Linked DNA regions of Homo sapiens. The protein of the gene in region 1 purifies or fractionates together with the protein of each later gene. This does not show direct contact. Each region holds a gene or a part of one and is shown in the gene's direction. Other genes may lie near its edges.

Region 1 (10,942 bases):
GACATAAATATTTAAAATAAATAAATAATACATTCATTTATTTCATTATTAAATTGGTGTTATTATAACTACTTCACAACCGGAACACCTAAACTTTGGATGGTGAAATGACACTTATAAGGCAACACAAAAATTAAGAGAAGTACATGGGAACTCCCTGCCAACGATGTATAAGTTTGTTTCATCTGGCATTTGCCAACTTGAGTGGCAATATATTGTTTCTCTCGTAGATGTCACAAATGATCTAGTGAGATAAACTTGCATTAGCTCTCCAACTAAATAGAGTATGTGGCTCAACTACTGCCTCCCCTCCCAGACACACGTGTAGAACCCACACGTACAGCATTGCCTACACTCAAGAGTCTAAAATCCATTCCTAGAATTAGATTTTCTTAATTAAACAATTTGTGTAATTTTAAGGATCTTGAAAGGGCGTACCAGTCTATACCTCATGTGCGTGCGTATGTGTGTGTGTGCGCATTTGGTGTGGTGTGGTGTGTGTGTGGTATATTCCTTTTTTGTTCTGTTAATATGGTGTATCGTACTGATGATTGATTTTGAAATTTTAAACCAACCTAGCATTTCTAAATAAACTTCACTTGGTCACAATATATTGTCCTTAACATATATTGTTAGATTTGATTTGCTATTTTGTTAAGGATTTTGTGTCTACAGCGTATTTATGAGGGATACTGGTATGTAGTTCTATTTTATTTAGATACATTTTTCTGGTTTAGAATCAGGGTAACACTGGTCTTATTTAAGTTGCAGCGTATTCCCTTCTTCTTGATTTTCTCAAAGGATAATATTGGTATTACTTCTTTCTTCATTGTATAAAGTTCACCAAAAAGCCACCTGGGCCTGAAGTTTTCTTTGTGAGTCAGTTTTCACTTACAAATTTAATGCCTTTAGCTGATAAAAGGCTGCTCAAGTTTTCTATTTCTCCTTTCATCTTTGGCAATCTGTGCCTTGCAAAAAGTTTGTCCATTTTGTACAGTTTGCCAATTTATTGTCATAAAGTTGTCAAAATATTATTCTTCTAATGCCTGAAGCATCTGTAATCATGGCTCTTCTTTCATTCCTAATATTGGTAAATTGGTTATTCATGTCTTCTCATTCTTTTCTTATTTTTTATTTATTTATTTATTTTTTTGAGTTGGAGGCTCGCTCTGTCGTCCAGGCTGGAGTGCAGTGCTGTGATCTCGGCTCACTGCAACCTCCGCCTTCCAGGTTCAAGCGATTCTCCTGCCTCAGCCCCCTGAGTAGCTGGGATTATAGGCGCCCACCACCACGCCCGGCTAATTTTTGTATTTTTAGTAGAGACAGGCTTTCACCATGTTGGCGAGGCTGGTCTCGAACTCCTGACCTCAGATGATCCACCGACCTCAGCCTCCCAAAGTGCTGGGATGACAGGTGTGAGCCACTGCTCCCAGGCTTTTTTTTTTTTTTTTTTTAATCAATCACAGGAGCAATTCCTGTGAACTAATAGGGAGAGGTCCAGGTAGAGCTATCTGATTGCAATGTAATTCTGACCCTGAGTGAAGGAAAAAAGGAAGGAAGACTGGGGAAGAGTTCCATGCTGTCTCACAGTCCAAGGAAACTTTGGTTTGGCAAGGCCATCAGGGAGTCATTAATCAAAAACCAGCTGTCAGGGGAGTCCCATTTGTCTCCCAAATAGCAAGCCTTAGCACTAAGTCATGAGCTAGGTGCAGCCCGTAAGAACTGTGGCTTCCCTTGGTGTGATCATGGAGATTTCAACTAGCAGCAGCTAAACTCCCTATAGAAAGAAGGCTGGGAGGCACATTCTCATGGCTGCCACATTCTCTCCTGTGCATTCTTAACATCCTACATTTTCAGTGCCTTCCTGACTACTCCAGCTCACAAAGATGGCCAGGCAGTACTTATTGAATGAATGAATCCTCTGAATTCCTTAGCAGTTAATAGTCTCTGGCTTATATTTGTCATTTGCCATATACAGAATTACCTTGTATTCTAGTTCTATTTTTACATTTATATATCCAGGTTATATTGAAAGCCTTGCTTCATCAAGATTATTTTAAAGTACCTCAAAAACTTTATTAATTTGTTGATTAGCAATCTTCCTAGGTATGCACAAAAGGAAAAAAAATAAGATTATGACAACTTCCAGCAATAATTTACTTAAAAATAAACAGCTTAAAGTTATTAAGGGCATGATATGGAAAATGTCACTTATCTATTTATTCAACAACAAACACTTATCAAGGATCTATTGTGTGTCAGCCATGTGCTAAGTGAGTGTCTCACCATAAGGAATAAGACATATAAGCAGTCATCATTTTGCTTATAGGTTTTTGATACAGACACACAATAAACACATAAGTACATAGACAAATATGTAGAAGCGCTAGGGTTGGAAAGGTACCAAATGATAGCCCCCTGAAATTTTATTTATTCTATGTAATTGGTTAGTATTACGAAATTGAAGCATGTTTATATATAAAAGATAAGCTTAAGATAAATTGTCACAAAATTCAAAGTTGAGAAATCAGTAAATAATGGTCACATTTCCCCTCCAGATAGAGAAACCAGGCTATCTTCTTCAAATATTTCCAGAATTGCATCTGTCACAGAGCCTTTGTACCCTACATGAGATAGAGATATCTATAAAGCTTTAATAGAATCAGATTGATTTATTAATTTATTTACCCAGTCTGTTTTTCATGCTTCATTACTTAGTTCCGGGAAACACAAAGGTGAAGAGGACATATTCCATATTCATAATTGTTTAACCACATGAGTGAATGTCTAAAGGTGACAATTTGCTTCTAGTATCTAGTGTTTATTTGCAGTCTATTTCTTTTTTCCCACTATGTCAATACTTTAACAGCTGTATATGGAATGCTTGCAACAAACCTGGTGATGGGGAATTATAAATGAATAAAATACACTTTTCTCAGCCTCAAAAAATGTCTGCAATTAGATAATAATTCTAATAGAAAATATTTATGAATCTCCTATGGATATCTTATACAACTTTACATTGTAGTCTGAAGGAAATCAAGCTTTAACTTTATAATTGAAAAATTTCTCCAAGTTAGTTATACACAGTTTACTTTGGAAAACTGACATAGTGGATATGAAATAGTTTTTGTTTTTCTTCTAGGAAAGTCTTAATAGACATCGATACTTGAATTCTTTATTTCCCAGTGAAAACTCCACCGCCTTCTATGGAATAAATCAGTTTTCCTATTTGTTTCCTGAAGAGTTTAAAGGTATAGTCCGATGTTGCTATTTAGGTGGTTTCCTGATTTTAATTTGCTTGCTTAACTTTTGATAAATATTTCATTGTAAATCTAATATATTGAGTAATAGTTAACATTTATTAAGTGTCTACTAAATGTCAGGCATGTACCATGTGCTCACATAAGAAAATAAATTCATGGCCAGTCTCTTCTAATTACTGCTTAAGAAATGAATGTTATAATTATGCACATTTCCATGTGGCTATAAAGGATAATTGTCTAATCACTTCTGCAGTTTTCTAGTGCTTTTTCTCTTCAGGACACACATGGTTCCATGGGTTATGATAGAACAAATGATGTCAATTATACTTATTTTTATTATTGACCTGGTTCTATCAAACAAATCATTTTATGTGTCAACTCCAGCCTTATTGTAGGAATTCTCTTTTGTAGTTTTTAATGAATGCATTTTATGTTATAGAAAAGCACAAGAGAAAATCTAAAATAGCAGGTCTACTAGAAGGCTACTGTTTCTTCTTTAAAAGTTCCTCCCAAAGAATCTCAAGGATATAATATAATATAATATTGGTTGTCTTTTAGTATAATATTGGTTGTCTCCCTATAATATAATATTGATTGTCTTTATATATAACAAATATATATGATATATATAATATAATATATTGTAATATAATATTGGTTGTATTTTCATTTTATGTTTCTACTCAGCCATTTATTTAAGAAGCAAACCTTCCAAGTTTCCCAGATACTCAGCAGAAGTACATATGTCCATCCCCAATGTGTCTTTGCCGTTAAGATTTGACTGGAGGGACAAGCAGGTTGTGACACAAGTGAGAAACCAGCAGATGGTACGTTGAAATCCCTCTTCTTTTCTAATCATCTAAGCATTGAAAGGCAGCTTTGAGGTCAAGTTTAATCAAAGTTGTAATGGAAACATCATTTCTCTAGGAAAATCACATCTCAGTCATCCAAAAATGACAATGAAAAGAGAATCTCTGGAGGAATGAGAGTCAAATGTCAAAGCCCTGACTTTTATTTCTGAAGATAAACCTTCCTTGCTGTGTACTCTTACTAATTGCCATTGCCACCAACACAATAACTCAGGGATACTTCCCAGTAGCTGTAATAACAGCTCAGGGATACTTCCCAGTAGCTGTATCACAGATACCAAGCTTTCTGTACAATAGCAGATGAGAGGCTGGAGAAGGTAAACATGAGCACTAAAGGCTTAAATGGTTCAAGAAAAAAAAAGTGAAAAAGTAAAATGAAAATGGATACATTTACCAACAGTGTGGCCGAATCTCCTGGGTTCTCAAGCCTCATCTTGCAAGCTCTGTCAGAAAATCTGCCCCCGTCTTCACAGGATCATATACCTTTGAATCTGTGGGCCTTAAAAGTATAGTTAGTAGTCAGTTCAGCCATAACGTGACGCATACATTCCAGAAAATCACCACCTATGCAGAATTGAGCAGTAGCATGACAGGGATTATGGGAGAAATGAGGTTAGGTTACACTACCTACGAGCTTAGTCAATGACATATGTTTTAAAAGACAGAAAACTAATAGACACAGTAGCACAGTTTTACACATGTTTACTGATTAAGAAATATGTAAGTACTGCAATAAATATAGCAATTTACCTTGAAAAGAGACTCAAAGTGTGCTGAGGACATGGGAGTTGGCAGGGCAGCAGCTTGTGAGTTATTCTGAAGTGGTGGAAGGAGGTGCCTTTGAACTAGGAAGGAAAGTGGTAAGAGCAGATGTGGGTGGGTATGACCTATAATGCATGTAGTGAACCCACCTAGCTGGCAGACGTTTGAGGGGTGTGTGCATACTTTGCTGACCTTCCCTACCCGTCTACACTCCCAACTGTTGGCATAGGGAATGCCTGCCAAACAGGCAAAGTCAAACCCCTAACCAGAGGGGATAGTCTCAGTTTGTCTGCAGTGGAAACCTCAACAGATCATTCAGCCTTCCCTTTTATGGAAAGTGTTTTGGTGCCAGCTGTTTCGCAGTCAATGTGTAGTTAGAATGATTTTTGCTTCTCAGAGTCTATATTTATTTTTGTACATTAAGTTTTACCACCAAATCATTTGCTTTATTATTGGATTTGTAATAACATGTCAATTAGACATAAATCTAATCCTTTCAAAAATTGTCCACAGTGTATTGAAGAGGGAACTTTTAATTAGAGATCTTTAATTAAAGGAATGTATGAGAGACTTTTTTTTTTTTTTAAGCAGGAACTGCCCTTGTGGCTTGACTAAAGCTGGCTATAGGGGTGATGTCAGCAGCCTGTTACCTTTTCTCTTTTTTTTTTTTGAGACGGAGTCTCACTCTGTCACCCAGGCTGGAGTGCAGTGATGCGATCTCGGCTCACTGCAACCTCCACCTCCCAGGTTCAAGAGATTCTCCTGCCTCAGCCTCCTTAGTAGCTGGGATTACAGGTGCGCACCACCATGCCTGGCTAATTTTTGTATTTTTAGTAGAAACGGGGTTTCACCATGTTGGTCAGGCTGGTCTTGAACTCCTGACCTCATGATCCGCCTGCCTTGGCCTCCCAAAGTGCTGGGATTACAGGCATGAGCTGCCCTGTGTTCACCTTTGTCAAAGTTTGGAGACCCTGCTGTATGGTCACTTAGTGAGTGTTTTTACTATGCCATAGGCACTAGAGATAGAGATATAACCTTTAAAAAAGCACTTAAAGCCATAAAGTTGCTCAAAACTTAACTCTGCAAAGATATCCAATTGTCATTCCTTTTTTTTTTTGGTCTAACTCTGCCACACATGGCCCTCCAGTTATGTTAGTTTCATCCAGTCTCAAATCCTACTCTCTTCTGCCTTTTCTGTGGATCCTTCTTCCTTTTACGTGATCCTACGATCCCTAATTTCATTCCCTCTGTCTCCTCTCTTTCTTTCAGGACTAGTTCTTTTATTCTTTTGTTCTAGTTTGTTAAGTAAAAGCAAATTAAGAGATCCACTATCAGCATGATTGGCAGCCAATACTGGAGTAATGACTAATATGGATTTATATCCTTAGGACATTTCATGTACATCCACTATAAGCATACTTAATCGGGCATCTTTATAGCCTAAAGAGTAATTCATTAATATTTATTAATTCTCTTATCTCCATCAAATAATTAGCACAACATGCATCTTTCCCCTCCTCACCCTTAGGATGGAAGTGGTGTATGACCATGGAAGCAGAGTGTCCTTAAAAAAGCAAGGGGGATGGAAGGTTGGGGCGGGAGTCGGCACACACTCTCCAGAAGAAAAGCCACTTACAAAGAGAAGTCACATATTCAGTGAACTGAATGGTCTTTTAGAAGATCATCAGTTAGCCCAAGTATTTCCTCGGTCTCTAAAAATTCACTTTTATCTTGCATTGCCAAATTTAGAATAGTAATAATGCTGACAACATGAACTAATAATTAAATGATGCTCAAAAGAGACTTTTGGTTTTCTCTTTTTTTCAGTTTAAAAATCTAGAGGATAGGCGTATTTATTTTGTAGGTTTCCAGAATCTGGAAGCCTTACTTGATTTGATAACTTGTTACATTTAGAGATGTTGGTAAGTTGATTTAAACCCTGGAAATACCACCCCTTTTTCTGTTTTTAAACAGTGTGGAGGATGCTGGGCCTTCAGCGTGGTGGGGGCAGTGGAATCTGCTTATGCAATAAAGGGGAAGCCCCTGGAAGACCTAAGTGTCCAGCAGGTCATTGACTGTTCGTATAATAATTATGGCTGCAATGGAGGCTCTACTCTCAATGCTTTGAACTGGTTAAACAAGGTGACTAGTCTCTCAACCTCTTAAACTCTTTATTTCCTTTTTTGCTTGTTTACTGTGTGTTCAAAATTCAAACAGTTTGTTCACATATATTAAATAATGTTTCCACGTTCGGAAATGTAGATGATCAAAGCATGAAGTAATTAATCAGAATATTTAAAAATGAATCACTTCTAGGCAAAGCAGTTGTCAAGAAATCAAAAGGGGAAAAATCTGAAGTCTGTCTTCAGAGAAATATTTATATTTATTTCTTAACATTTCTTAATATATACATGCTTTTTTGCAGATCTGAATATCTCATAATATCCCGGAAAGATGAGAATATATTTTTTTTATTTTCATAGAATTTCTGAATGTTAAGGTTAAAAGGAACATTAGAGACTAATTTTTTAGCTCTTTTTTGTTGTTGTTGTTTTTGAGACAGAGTCTCACTCTGTCACCCAGGCTGGAGTACAGTGGCACAATCTTGGCTCACTGCAACCTCCACCTCCCGGGTTCAAGTGTTTCTGCTGCTTCAGCCTCCGGAGTAGCTGGGAACTATAGGTGCCCACCACCACACTTGGCTAATTTTTTTGTTTTTTTTGTTTTTTGTTTTTTGTTTTTGTTTTTTTAGTAAAGACATGGTTTCACCATATTGGCCAGGCTGATCTCGATCTCCTGACCTTGTGATCCACCCGCCTCAGCCTCCCAAAGTGCTGGGATTACAGACATGAGCCACCACACCCAGCCTGTAGCTCTTTTTATAGATGAAGAAATGAAGCCTGAGAAGTGAGATCATTTTGTCAAGTCAGTAGCTGAGCCGGAGTTGTACCTTCAGTCCCCAGCCTCTCACAGTAGGGCTTTGCTCAGTATACCCCAGTGTCCCTCAGCGTTCTTAGCACTTGCCCTGACAGTGTCCCAGATCCGATATCAACTGCATGAAATTTGCCAATGAGGGTGCTATTAGTTTCTGTAGAACGTCATCAAACCAGAGTTCCCCAAACCTGAATTCTCTTCCATTATCCATTGGTTGCATTTTTAATCACGTATTCCAGGACCTGCTCTGTACACACTGTAGACGACAATGAATTATGAGTCTCCTCCCTTTCATTAGCCTAGCATTCAAAAAGGGAGGGTTTTGTACAGATAACTATGAAGTATTTGACATATGCTATATGAATGGCATAAAAGTGAAGTGATAGAAAGAATGCTTGACCTAACCGTTGCCTGTGTATAAACCACTGGATGGAATCTGAAAGACTTGGCAGAACCAGAAGCACTGGGAGGAAAGTGAGCTGCCCTATAGCACCGTCAGGAGAAAGATGACAAGACTGTTACTAGATCCATGGAGGATCTACAAAAGGATGCTGTAAGATAAAGAGAAGTAAGGGAGAAGGAAAGATATTGACTCCAAATGTCTAGACTATCCAGAACAAGCACCTAAAGATTTAATTTATAATATTAAAAACCCAAAGTATAGGCTGGGCACAATGCCTCACACCTGTAATCCCAGTATTTTGGGAAGCCAAGGCAGGTGGATTTCTTGAGTCCAGGAGTTTAAGACCAGCCTGGGCAACAGAGTGAGACCCCATCTTTACAAAAAATACAAAAAATTAGCCTGGCGTGGTGGCTCATACCTGTAGTCACAGCTACTGGGGAGACGGAGGTGGGATGATCACTGGTGCCCAGGAGGTGGAGATTGCAGTGAGACGAGATCGAGCCACTGCACTCCAGCCTGAGCAACCAAACAAAACTCTGTCTCAAAAAAGAAAAAGAAAAAAAAAAGAACGCAAAGTATATCCACATGATGAAGGTGTGTGAAATTGAACCTGTTTTGACACAGTGAAGTAAGTTCTATTTGATTTATAAAACAATTGACAGTAAACATGTTCAGTGATTGTTTTCTTTTAGATGCAAGTAAAACTGGTGAAAGATTCAGAATATCCTTTTAAAGCACAAAATGGTCTGTGCCATTACTTTTCTGGTTCACATTCTGGATTTTCAATCAAAGGTTATTCTGCATATGACTTCAGGTAAAGATCTTATTGTATTATGTTTTTCTTTATACATTTTTAATTTATGATCTATTGACTGGTTAATAATTTGTTTGAAGGCATCACTGCATACTCTTAATCCTTGTAAAACATACTTTTTACTAGAAAGAGTAGCAATTACAATGAAATGTTGTAAATGTTGTTTCTTAATTATAATCTACTTATTTTCCCAAGTGTCATTACGATAGAAATGAAAAATTTTAATTCTGTGTAAGGTACAATTTATATGTATATTTATTTGTTATATTTTATATTTTATTATACTTACAAATTATTAGTGCATAATTTATATTTATATATACCACCTTCATCTTATCAAATTTAGGTGTTATATTACCATTAGCATATTTCAATCTTAATGGTGAGTCCATCCAGAATTGCTTTGTACAGACTGTGCAGCTAATATCACGTAGGCTACATATCAGGAAGCATATTTTGAACACCTTCTATGTTCTTTGCATTTTTCAAGACATCAGCCATTTGAAAAATATAACACAAAACTTCAGATTAGAGAAAAGAGGGAAGCATATACTACTGAAGATAAATTATGTAGCATACACTATAAGCATGATGGGAATGTAGGGATAGATAAAGACAGGCTGAGGAAAAGGACTTGTGTTGGAACTGAAGGGCAGGATAACTTTGGATAGTTTTGGGGAAAACAATCATTAAAAATGCTTTAAAAACACATGAAAAACACAGAGCTGGCTGGAGACTCATCATGACCATTTGATAGAGTGCAAAATAGGTGTTCATGGGTGAAAAGGACAAAGGGAGACCCAACCAACTCCTGGCTTCATTAAGAAAATATATGATGGGAACTTTGCAGTCTTTTGAAACAGAGAAAACAGGAACTAAATTAAATTTGGATAAGGTAACAGAATCCCCTATGACTTAGTGGTCCTGAATATAAAATAATCCCTTGATCCAGATGGTATCTACCCATGGGATCTGAAAGAAATCAAGGGTGAAATTGCGTCCTTGAACAAAATGTACCCGTTTAAATGAGCATAAGTGTGCCAGAGAACTGTCAGGTTGTCAACACAGCTCCGGTCTGCAACAAGGGTCCTCAGGGTGACACCAGGAACCATACACCAGACAGCCTTAATTCCACAGCTGGCAGACCATGTAGGATTTATAATAAAATGTGCAGGGTCACTGAGTACCGTGGTCAACATCTCATTTGGGGATAAAGGTAATGTGCTTTCTAAAATCAGAAAGTATGCCCTATAAACTCTGACTTCCTTGAGAGTATAAGGGAAGGATGTGTACAAGAAAAAACTAGATTTACAAAATATCATTAAAAGGGATTAAGGGAATCCCTTATCATGGTAGGAAATTGAAAAAAAAATTAAGAAGAAGCAAAAGAATAATAGGCATTAGTCTGAATTAAGGGAAAGAGAGAATGCAGGAGTTGTTGGCATTGGGCCTTTGATTAGGAAGGAAGAGGTCCCAATCAAAATATCTTGTTTATATTGAAGATTAAACTCTAACAGTGCAATGCTAAACTGATAGCATTTGACTGCAAGAAGATCTTTCTTTGATTTATTTATTCATTCAAATATTTACTGACTTTTTTTTAAGTTCTGGGGATTTGGCAGAGAACAAAACAGACAAAAACCTTGCCCTCATTAGTAATTGAGACAGACAGTCACAAAAAATAAAAATACATGTGGCATATTGGCTGTAATAATTAACAAAGAGAACAAATGAAAACAGTGGGAGGAAGAGAAACGATCTGGTAGTAGGGGGAGTGTACAATTTGAGAAAGGGTTGCCTGGCAGGGCCTCACTCACTGAAAAGGTTATGTTCAAGTGAAGACTTGGAGAAGTGCGTGGACTTAACCACGCAGATATGTGGGGGAACATGGTTC
Region 2 (10,942 bases), on another chromosome or scaffold:
ATTTAAAAGAGGTCGATAAAGATTAAGTCGCCGAAGATAGTGTTGTGTAATTCTCTCGTAGGTTTCGTTCCGTTTTCCACCTTAAGCAAAGCTAGTGTGTAACAATCCTGTGTGGGCTTATTTAGGCATTGCTTATTAATTTTCCTCTTCTCTTATAGGTGATTTTCCTGCATGGATTGGGAGATACTGGGTAGGTACCATTATTATTAATAGTAACAGTAATGAAACTGGGTCATGCAACTTTTGTTTACGCGTTCAAAGGTTTAATGTTTAAGGGCGCTAAAATGGTATTTTAAGATTGCCAGTTAATGTATCTTACAGTGCGGTGATTTTATGTTTTGAAAACCCTCAGAATTTTCCCCTTATCATCGTGAGTTTATTGATTTTTTAACTCTGGTTTCTGGAACATATTAAAATTTCAAATTCCTCATTAGTTGCTTTGGGTATTGGATACCAGAGATCCGTGGAATGTTAGTAGGGACGGTGTGCAATTGAGAGCTTTCCAGAGCAGTTAAAATTTCAGAGCAGATTGAAGAGAAGAACTAGTTGATTTTGATAAGAGAACTAGTGGCAACATAAGGCATGCAGCATTCTGAATAGAGGGATTAGATGTTCACTCTAATGAGTTGAAAGGCAGGGGAGGCAACTCAAAGATTTATTTGGAGGCTTATCAAACAATTTGTTGTACTAACTACTTATTTTTATTTTATTTTTTGTTTGTTTGCTTTTTTCTTTTGTTATTATTTTTAGAGACAAGGGCTCTCTCTGTCGCCCAGGCTGGAGTGCAGTTGCAGGATCTTAGCTCACTGCAGCTTTGAACTCCTGGGCTCAAGTGATCCTTCAGCCTCAGCCTCTCAAAGCACAGAGATTAGAGGTGGGAGCTGCCTGAGCCTGGCCTTTTGTACTAACTTTAGATACATGATTTATCTTTTACTCAAGCTTTTTCTATATTGAGATGTTTTTGTTTTTATATTTAAATTGGTGATAATCTGTGAAACTTAAGCAAAATATGAATGTTGTTGAAAAATTGCAGAAATAGAGGAAAACTGAAGATAAATAAATTTTGATAAAGTAGCCCCAGAACGACTAAATTTTCTTTAAAATGAACCATTGGGGCCGGGCGCGGTGGCTCACACCTGTAATCCCAGCACTTTGGGAGGCCGAGGTGGGTAGTTCACTTGATGTCAAGAGTTCGACACCAGCTTGGCCAATATGGTGAAACCCCATCTCTACTAAAAATATAAAAATTACCCGGGTGTGGTGGTGCATGCCTGTAATCCCAGCTGCTAGGGAGGCTGAGAGAAGAGAATCACTTGAACCTGGGAGGCAGAGGCTTCAGTGAGCCAAGATTGCACGACTGCACTCCAGCCTGGGCCACAGAGTGAGACTCAAAAAAAAAAAAAATGCCATTAGGCTAGATTTTTGTTTGTTTGTTTGGAGACAGGGTCTGCTGTGTTGCCCTGGCTGGAGGGCAGTGGCGTGATCTTGACTCACTGCAACCTCCACCTTCTGGGTTCCTGGGTCTCCCGAGTAGCTGGGACTACAGTTGCTTGCCACCATGCCAGCTAATTTTTGTATTTTTAGTAGAGACAGAGTTTTGCCATGTTGGTTACGCTGGTCTCGAACTCCTGACCTCAAATGATCCACCCACCTGAGCCTCCCAAAGTGCTGGGATTACAGGCGTGAGCCACCACTTAAAAGTGATTCCTATTTTTTGCCTAATAAGTCGAGTTATGTAATACAAACTTTGTATGGAGTTACAGAAAAGGTTGCAGCACTCTTTCTGGCAATCCAGTGGTCCTGTGAAAATGATGAACTTATTTTACCAAATGAAACTCGAATAGCAGAATCTCTATTTTATGGCCAAACCTTTCTTGATGTTGCAAGTCAGGGAGAAGGTTGCTATCCTCTAACTTTGCCAATAATGAGCACTTCTATGCCTGAATGATTAGTTCAAGCAAAAAAAAAAAAACTTCAGTCTAGGCAGATTCCACAGACTGAAGCTAAAAGTAAAAATGGTGAAGACTATTAGGATCAAAAATACCAAGAACATCCATTACATCTTGACCAAAAGTTAAGTTTATATTAAAAAAGTATCCTTCTTTTTAACCTGTTGTGATAAAAGAAAAAACAAAGGTCTCCAGTTCTGAAATTATTTGGTGGGATAATGCTAAGGAAAGGCTGACTCTAGATTGGTTCCATGAGTGCATGATGAAACTTCGAACCTGTCAGCCTGACAAGTGGCAATTTAATACTTAAGATATTGTAGTCTCCCCTTACCTGCAGTTTTGCTTCCCATGGTTTCAGTTACCCGTGGTTAACTGTGGTTTGAAAATACTAAATGAAAAATTCCAGAAATACTTTATAAGTTTAAAATTGTACACCATTCTTTTTTATTTATTTTATTATTATTTTTTGAGATGGAGTCTCACTCTGTCACCCAGGCTGGAGTGCAGTGGCACGATCTCGGCTCCCTTCAACCTCTGCCACTCGGGTTCAAGTGATTCTTGTGCCTCGGCCTCCGGCGTAGCTGAGATTACAGGCGCGTGCTACCACGTCCAGCTAATTTTTTTGTATTTTTAGTAGAGATGGGGTTTTGCCATGTTGGCCAGGGTGGTCTTGAACTCCTGACCTCTAGTGATCCACCCACCTCGGCCTCCCGCAGTGCTGGGATTACAGGCATGAGCCACCATGCCTGGCCTGAATTGTACACCATTCTGAGTATTGTGATGAAATCTCATTCCGTCTCACCCAGGACACGAATCATTCCTTTACCTAGCGTATCCATGCTATATCCATTCACCATCTGTTAGTCACTTGGTAGCCATCTGGGTTATCAGGTCAACTGTTTTGGTATTGTTTTGCTTTTTTTTTTGAGACAGAGTCTTGCTCTGTCACCCAGGCTGGAATGCAGTGACACAATCATGGCTCACTGCAACCTCCACTCTCCAGGTTCAAGCAACTCTCCTGCCTCAGCCTCCTGAGTAGCTGGGACTACAGGCGTGCACCACCACACCCGGCTAATTTTTGTATTTTTAGTAGAGACGGGGTTTCATCATGTTGGCCAGGCCAGTCTGGAACTCTTGACCTCAAGCGATCTGCCCGCCTTGGCCTCCCAAAGTGCTGGGAATACAGGCATGAGCCACCTCGCCCAGCCTGTAGTGCTTTTATCCAAATAAGCCTTACATTGCTTAATGATGGCCCCAAAGTGCAAGAGAAGTGATGTTGTCATATTGTTATAATTGTTTTATTATTGTTAATCTCTTCCTATGTCTAATTTACACAATAAACTTTATCACAAGCATTATGTATAGGAAAAAACATAGTATATATAGGGTTTGGTGTTATCCATGGATTCAGGCATCCACTAGGGGTTTTAGAGCATCCCCCACTGTTTATTTCTGGAATTTTCCATGTAATATTTTCGAACCACAGTTGACTGTGGGCAGCTGAAACCATGGAAAACAAAACTGTGGGTGAGAAGGACTAGGGTATTTTAAACATTATATAATCACAGAAAAGTTATCCCATTAAATTTAACATTTAGTATTATCTAATATATTATGCATTCAACCTTTGCCAGATTGTTCCATTAATATCCTTTATAGCTATCTCCTCCCTAGTCATACATTATATTTAGTTATCACGTCTCTTTAGTCTCTTTTGTCTCTTTTAATCTGGAACAATTCCCTAGATTTTCTTTTGTCTTTCACGACATTGACACTTCTGCAGAGAACAGGCTAGTCCTTTAATTTGGGTTTGTGTATTTACTCATGATTAGATTCAGTTTATGCATTTCTGGTATAAATACCATGTAAACAATATGTCCTATTCATTGCGCGCATCAGTAGACTAATGATGCTGAGTCCTTTTATTGTTGTAACTTCGATCTTTTGATTAAGGTGGTATCTTCCAGGTCTCGACTGCAGTTACTTTCCTTTTGTAATTAAAAAGCAAGTTGCGGGGGGATACTTTGTGACTATGCAAGTTGTTCATCAAGCTTTCACCCAATATTTTTATCATCCATTGATAATTGCTTGAGTCAATCATTTCTACAGTGTGATTTTCCAATTCTGTCATTCCTTTTTTTTTGTCATTCCATTTTGTTTATTAATCTGCTACTCCCCATTTAGTTAGTATGGACTCAGATTTATTTTCTATTTATTTATTTATTTGTTTATTTTTTGAGACAGAATCTCGCTCTGTCACCCAGCCAGGCTGGAGTGCAGTGGTGCAATCTCGGCTCACTGAACCTCCACCTCCCAGGTTCAAGCAGTTCTGCTGCCTCAGCCTCCCAAGTAGCTGGGACTATAGGTGCGTGCCGCCACACCCGGCTAATTTTTTTTTTTTTTTTTGAGACCTTGTCTCGCCCTGTCGTCCAGGCTGGAGTGTAGTGGCGTGATCTTGGCTCACTGCAACCTCTGCCTCCTGAGTTCAAGTGAGTCTCCTGCCTCAGCCTCATGAGTAGCTGGGATTACAGGCACGTGCCACCACGCCTGGCTAATTTTTTTTGTATTTTTAGTAGAGACGGGGGGGTTTCACCATGTTGGTCAGGCTGATCTCAAACTCCTGACCTCGTAATCTGCCCTCCTCAGCCTCCCAAAGTGCTGGGATTACAGGCGTGAGCCATAGTGTCCAGTCAGATTTTTGTAGTTTTAGTAGAGACGGGGTTTTGCCATGTTGGCCAAGCTGGTCTCGAACTCCTGACCTCAAGTGATTTGCCCACTTCGGCCTCCCAGTCCCTCCCTGGAATTACAGGCATGAACCACTGTGTCATGCCTGGACTCAGATTTATTTAATAGGTTATGTTCTATTCTGTTATGTTTTAAACTTTTTAACTTTTCATTTTAAATAACTTGAAATTTACATAAAAGTTGCAGAAATAACATTTATAGCTCCTTATACCTTTCACCCAAATTACCCAATTGTTAATATTTCTGAACTATTAAAGAATAAGTTGCAGGCGTGTTGCCTCATTACAGCTTAATTCTTCAGTGTACATTTTTAAGTACCAGGACACTCCAGTATAACCATCATTAAGAAGTTAACACTGATGGTATACTACGGTCTAATCCACCAGCTCCATTCACATTTCATTGATTTGAGCCAATAATGTCCTTTATCAGTCTAGGATCACATATTGCCTCTACTTATCATTTCTCTTTAGTTTTCTTTATTCTGAAACAGTCCTTGTCTTTCATGACCTTGACACTTTGTCAAGAATACAGGCCGGGTATGGTAATACCAGTGCTTTGGGAAGCTGAGCATGAGAATCGCTTGAGCCCAGCTGTTTGAGACCAGCCTGGGCAACAGCCAGACCCTGTGTCTACCAAAAAAAAAAAAAAAAAGTGTAAGCCAGTTACTTTGTAGAATGTCCCTCAGTTTGGGTTTATCTGATGTTTTGTGATTTATACCTTTTTGACAGTAACACTATAGGGGTATTGCTGTGTCCATAACAGTGCATCATATTAGGCAGACCTCATGATGATTTTGTTGTTACTGATGTGTTTTATCACTTGGTTAAGATGGTGTCTGCCAGGTTTCTCCACATTAAAATAATAAATATAACATATGAAATATTTAAAATATTGAATATGTAATTAAAATATTAAAAAATATTTTGTGGGGAGATACCTTGATATTATAACATATTCCTGATCCCCACCATATGTTCACCCATGGATTTAGCACCCATTAATGATTATTGCCAGAATCTATTGTTGTGGTAGTTGCCGAATATCTTATGATATTTAAATATTTAAAGTTAAAATATGGTCTTTTAATTAAATTTCCTTTGTTCTGGCCGGGTGCAGTGGCTCATGCCTGTAATTCCAGCACTTTGGGAGGCTGAGGCAGGAGGATCATCTGAGGTCAGTAGTTCAGTACCAGCCTGGCCAACATGACGAAACCTCGTCTCTACTAAAAATTAAAAAACTAGCTGGACAGGATGGTGCATGCCTGTTGTCCCATCTACTTGGGAGCTGGAGGTTGCAGTGAGCCAAGATGGTGCCACTGTACTCCAGCCTAGGCGACAGTGAGACTCAGTCTCAAAAAAAAAAAAAATTCCTTTATTCTGGATTTATTATTTAGCAGTCTACTGTGGGGTAGAGCTTTCCTTTCTCCTTTATTTATTACTTATGTAGATACTCATTTGTTTCAAAATTTTAAATCAGTACAGACTCTTGGATTCCTATTGTATTCAGAGGATAACAATCAAGTTAGTTATTTATTTTGATGCTCAAATTGTCCTTTAGTTGGCCACAGTAACCCTTTCAAGCTGGTACTTGGTGTCTTTTGGACATATCCTCATTCTTATTTGATCACTTCCTCACTTTATGGTACAAGACTTTTTCTAGGATTGTCTTATATGTTTCCTGCTCTAGTCCTGGACTCAGCCATTTTTCCAAGAACCCTGGTTCCTTTTAGTAGACAGTGAGATCTGGATGCTATATGTGCTCCCAGATCTAGACCCTTGCAGTGGACAGAGCTAAGAATATATGGACATACATACATATGTACACACATATCAGTTTTAGTATTTATAAGTATTCAAAATCTTGAGTTTATAATGATTCCTCCAATTGCAGCCCAGCACCACAGGGTTTATTATAGCCTTCTCCCTTTCCATATTTGTAATTCCGTGAGGAACCTGACTTCTGTTCTTGGGGGGTTCTGGCCAACAGTGCAACTGTGGAGTGTGCCCCTCCAGTTGCACCAGCTCACAGCTATGCTTCATTCATGGGACCTCTCCCCATCTGCTGAATATCACACCTGAAAGCTCAGTTCCAATTAAGGGGAAACGAGGAGGAGGAAAGGCCTGGTGGAAAGCTTGGTTCTCTTCATGTGTCCCCCTCCCTGCTACTCCCCAGCCCCGATGTATTCCAGGAATTACTTATCTGTATTACCAGTCCCTGTGACATTTCCTAGACCAAGGAGATTATAAAAGTATAGAGAAGAATGTTTGAAAGATAAAATAAGTGGTTGACTGGATCAGATTTTACTGAGAGGTCAAACAAGGTGAGGATTTAAAATAAATTGGCAACATGGATATGTTTTGTGACCGTAATAAGTTTGCAAGTCTTCCTGTAATCAAGAACTATTAATAATAGAATTATAGAATGTGATTTGGAGATCATTTAATTACAAGGAATAGAAAACTCTTCAACTAGCTTAAACAAAAATTAGAATTTGTGGAAGGATAGAAGGGCAGCCCACTGGCATATAAAGTCCATGAAGGCAAAGGTTTCTTTAATAAACTTTCATTAAGATAAAATTCACATACCATAAAATATACCTCAGCACAGGGATTTTTTGTGTTTTGTTTAAATTAATACTGTATTCCCAGTGCTAGAATAGTATAGGACATGTAATAGCACTAAGTATTTGTTGGACAAATAAATGAATAAATAAAGAATTAAAGGGTGAGACATACGAGGAGCATCAATCACCACATGTATTAGTTTCCTAAGGCTGCCATTATAAATAACCACAAACTAGATGGATTAAAAACAACAGAAATTCATTCTCACAGTTAAACAGGCCAAAAGTCCAAAACCAAGCTGTCAACAGGGCCACATACATTCTCTTTAACGGAAGATCCGTCCTTGCCTGTTCCGTTTCTGATAACTCCCGGCTTTCCTTGGCCTCAGGCACCATACCCCCAACCTCTGCCTCTGTCTTCATGTGACCTTTGCTGTGTTTCTGTTCTCTCCTCCTCTTAGGAGGACACCAGTTATTGGATTTAGGGCTCACCCTAATCAAGTGTGATCTCAACTCTTAACTAAGGAAATCTGCAAAGAGCCTATTTTTAAATAAAGTCACATTCCGAGGTTTCAGGTGGATGTGAATTTGGGGGGAACACTGTTCAACTACACCATTATTCTCACTACCTTTCCCTGGTCTTATGGTCTCTCACTTGCTTCTTTCTGTAGATTTGCGTAATTCTCAGTGTGGACACACTCGTGTTATCCACAAGTGAACGATCCTAGCTCTGACTTATATCAACCCTACTTCTGGTGTTCAGTCAAGAATCTGATCTGTCTTAGGTCATTTTTTTTCTTGTCTAGTTAGTTGGTAAGACTGATTGGGACTGATAGGAGAGTTCATAAGAATAACGTGCTACATGAATGGGGTTGGGGATGAGTGGTGTTTCTTTTACAAACCCAGACAGAATCTCTGTTCTACACCCATATTACTACAGGATAATGAACAAATGGAAATAATATGTGTGCGTGCCACCACACAGGTCCTGATTTTGTTTTGTTTTGTTTTGTTTTTAAGTAGAGACAGGGACTCATTATGTTGCCTAGGCTGGTCTCAAACTCCTGAGCTCAAGCAGTCTGTCCACCTTGGCTTCCCAAAGTGCTGGCATTACAGGTGTGAGCCACTACACCCAGCCAGAATTCTTAAATCTTGAGTTTTTCATTGTCACTGAAAATTATCAAAAGAGTTGGCTACAGCTTGGCCATCCTTTTTATATTAATATGGTTGGAGTCAGAGTTTTATAACCTGTATAGACCTTCGAATCATCCAGTACAACTAGCTCCTGGTTATGGATGGGAAAACTGAGAACTAGAAAGGCATGATTCTCATACTATAGCATGCATCAAAATCACTTGAAAGACTTGATTCTTGGGCCCCACTGCCAGTTTCTGATTGAGTGGGTCTGGAATGAGACCAAGGAATTTGTCTGCATGCCTCCTCTTCTTCTTTCTTCTTTCTTCCTCCTCTTCCTTCTCCTTCTCCTCCTCTTCCTCCTTCTCTCTCTGTCTCCTCCTTCTCCTCCTCCTCCACCTTCTCTTCCCCCTCCTTCTCTTCCTTCTTTCTCCTTCTCCTCCTTCTCCTTCTCTTCCTTCTTTCTCCTTCTCCTCCTCCTCCTCCTTCTCTTCCGTCTTTCTCCTCCTCCTCCTCCCCCTGACTTCGACAGGGTTCTCCTCCGCCGCCGCCTCTGCCTCTTCCATCTCCTCTGCCGCCGCTGCCTCCCCCTCCCCCTCTTCCTTCTCCTTTTCCTCCTCCTCCTCCTTGCTTCGACAGGGTCTCTCACTCTGTTGCCCAGGCTGGAGTGCAGTGGCGTGAACACAGCTCACTGCAGCCTTGACCTCCTGGGTTCAGCCTCCCAAGTGACTGGAAGTACAGCTGCATGCCACCATGCCTGGCTATTTTTTAAAGTTTTTGTAGAGATGAGGGTCTCAGTATGTTGCCCAGGTTAGTCTAACTCCTGGGCTCAAACTGTCTTCCCATCTGGGCCTCCCAAAGTGCTGGGATTACAGGCATGAGCCAGTGTGCCTGGCCAGAATTTGCATTTCTAACAAGTTCTCATTGGATACTGATAGTACAGGTCTGGGGATCACACTTCTGAGAACCACCAGACTGACGGAACTGTCTGTGACCACACTTTTAGATAGTGGCTGAGTGGGGACTAGAACCCAAGATTCCTATTTCTTTTTCTCATATAAGGGTTCTTAGTATTTCTCCTTCCTTCCTTCCTTCCTTCCTTCCTTCCTTCCTTCCTTCCTTTTCTTTCTTTCTTTCCTTCCTTCCTTTCTTCTTTTCTTTTCTTTTCTTTTTTCTTTTCTTTTTCTTTCCTTTCCTTTTCTTTTCTTTTCTTTTTTTGAGACAGTTTTGCTCTTGTTGCCCAGGCTAGAGTGCAGTGGCGTGATCTCGGCTCACTGCAACCTCTGCCTCCTGGGTTCAAGCGATTCTCTGCCTCAGTCTTCTGAGTAGCTGGGATTACAGGTGCCCGCCACTGTGCCCGGCTAATTTTTGTATTTTTAGTAGAAACAGGGTTTCACCGTGTTGGCCAGGTTGGTCTTGAACTCCTGACCTCAGGTGATCCGCCCACCTCGGCCTCCCAAAGTGCTGGGATTACAGGCATGAGCCACCATGCCCTGCCTGGTTCTTAGTATTTCTTATGTAGAATGGAGGTTGGAGCCAGGCATGGTGGCTCACACCTGTAATCCTATCACTTCGGGAAGCTGAGGTGGGAGGATGGCTTGAGCCTAGGAGTTTGAGATCAGTCTGGGCAACATGGCAAAACCCTGTGTATTAGTTCTCTTGCTGCTATAAATAATTACCGAAACTGGGTAATTTATAAAGAAAAGAGGTTTAATTCACTCACAGTTCTGCATGGCTGGGGAGGCCTCAGGAAAGGTGGAAGGCACCTCTTCACAGGGTGGCAGGAGAGAGAAATGAGAGCTGAGCGAAGGGGGAGGCCCCTTATAAAACTGTCAGATCAAATGAGAACTCACTGTCATAAGAACAGCATGGGGGAAACCACCCCTGTGATTCAATTATCTCTACCTGGTCCCACCCTTGACACATGGGTATTGTGGGATCTGGCCAGCAGCCCGCAATGCAATGGGGCTCTCTCTTTGTTCCCAGGCGGATCGGCAGGTTGAGAAATAATAGACACACACAAGATAGTGAAAGCTGGGTCCAGGGGGGTCACTGTCTTCTGGTCCCGCGGTGCCAACAATGCACTGGATATACCAGCATTTATTACTAAGTTTAGTGAGGGCGGGGGTAGGTTAGTGAGGGATTTAGGGTCATTTGATTATGAGGTGAGATGGTCACATGGGGATGAAATAATTCTTTAACATAACATTTGTATGTAGAAGTATAGTACATTTGTATGTAGAAGTACAGTATACAGAGATAAGAATTTACAATATAGTGTGTGCATCAGTAATTTCTAATAGAGCCTTAAAACAGAAACACAGTCTTTCCATAACCTATGATTAGCAAGATATTAATCAGCAGTAACAGTTGTAGCAAAAGCTGGTTACAAACAATCCATAGAAACAGGATGTGAAGCTAGACAACTGGTTAGACCAGAAATTCTCAGAAGGGGAGTATGTCTTAACCCTAAAGAGGCCTAGAAGAACCGTGGCAAGATGAGGGCATTTATAGCCCTATCTTATCCATGTGGACAGGCGCCCCCAAT

The links.
Region 2: the proteins of CTSO (region 1) and LYPLA1 purify together in Homo sapiens (affinity purification with mass spectrometry; 3 studies listed by BioGRID and IntAct, with this or other methods). This does not show direct contact.

What each region holds. Positions count from the first base shown.
Region 1 is NC_000004.12:155,935,468-155,946,409, reverse strand, and holds part of CTSO (cathepsin O preproprotein), read left to right. Parts: intron 1-3,145; coding exon 3,146-3,254; intron 3,255-3,953; coding exon 3,954-4,093; intron 4,094-6,871; coding exon 6,872-7,039; intron 7,040-8,926; coding exon 8,927-9,048; intron 9,049-10,942. UniProt on the Homo sapiens protein: Proteolytic enzyme possibly involved in normal cellular protein degradation and turnover.
Region 2 is NC_000008.11:54,090,156-54,101,097, reverse strand, and holds part of LYPLA1 (acyl-protein thioesterase 1), read left to right. Parts: intron 1-158; coding exon 159-190; intron 191-10,942. Other genes in the region: LYPLA1-TCEA1 readthrough, read left to right, coding at 159-190. UniProt on the Homo sapiens protein: Acts as an acyl-protein thioesterase. Hydrolyzes fatty acids from S-acylated cysteine residues in proteins such as trimeric G alpha proteins or HRAS.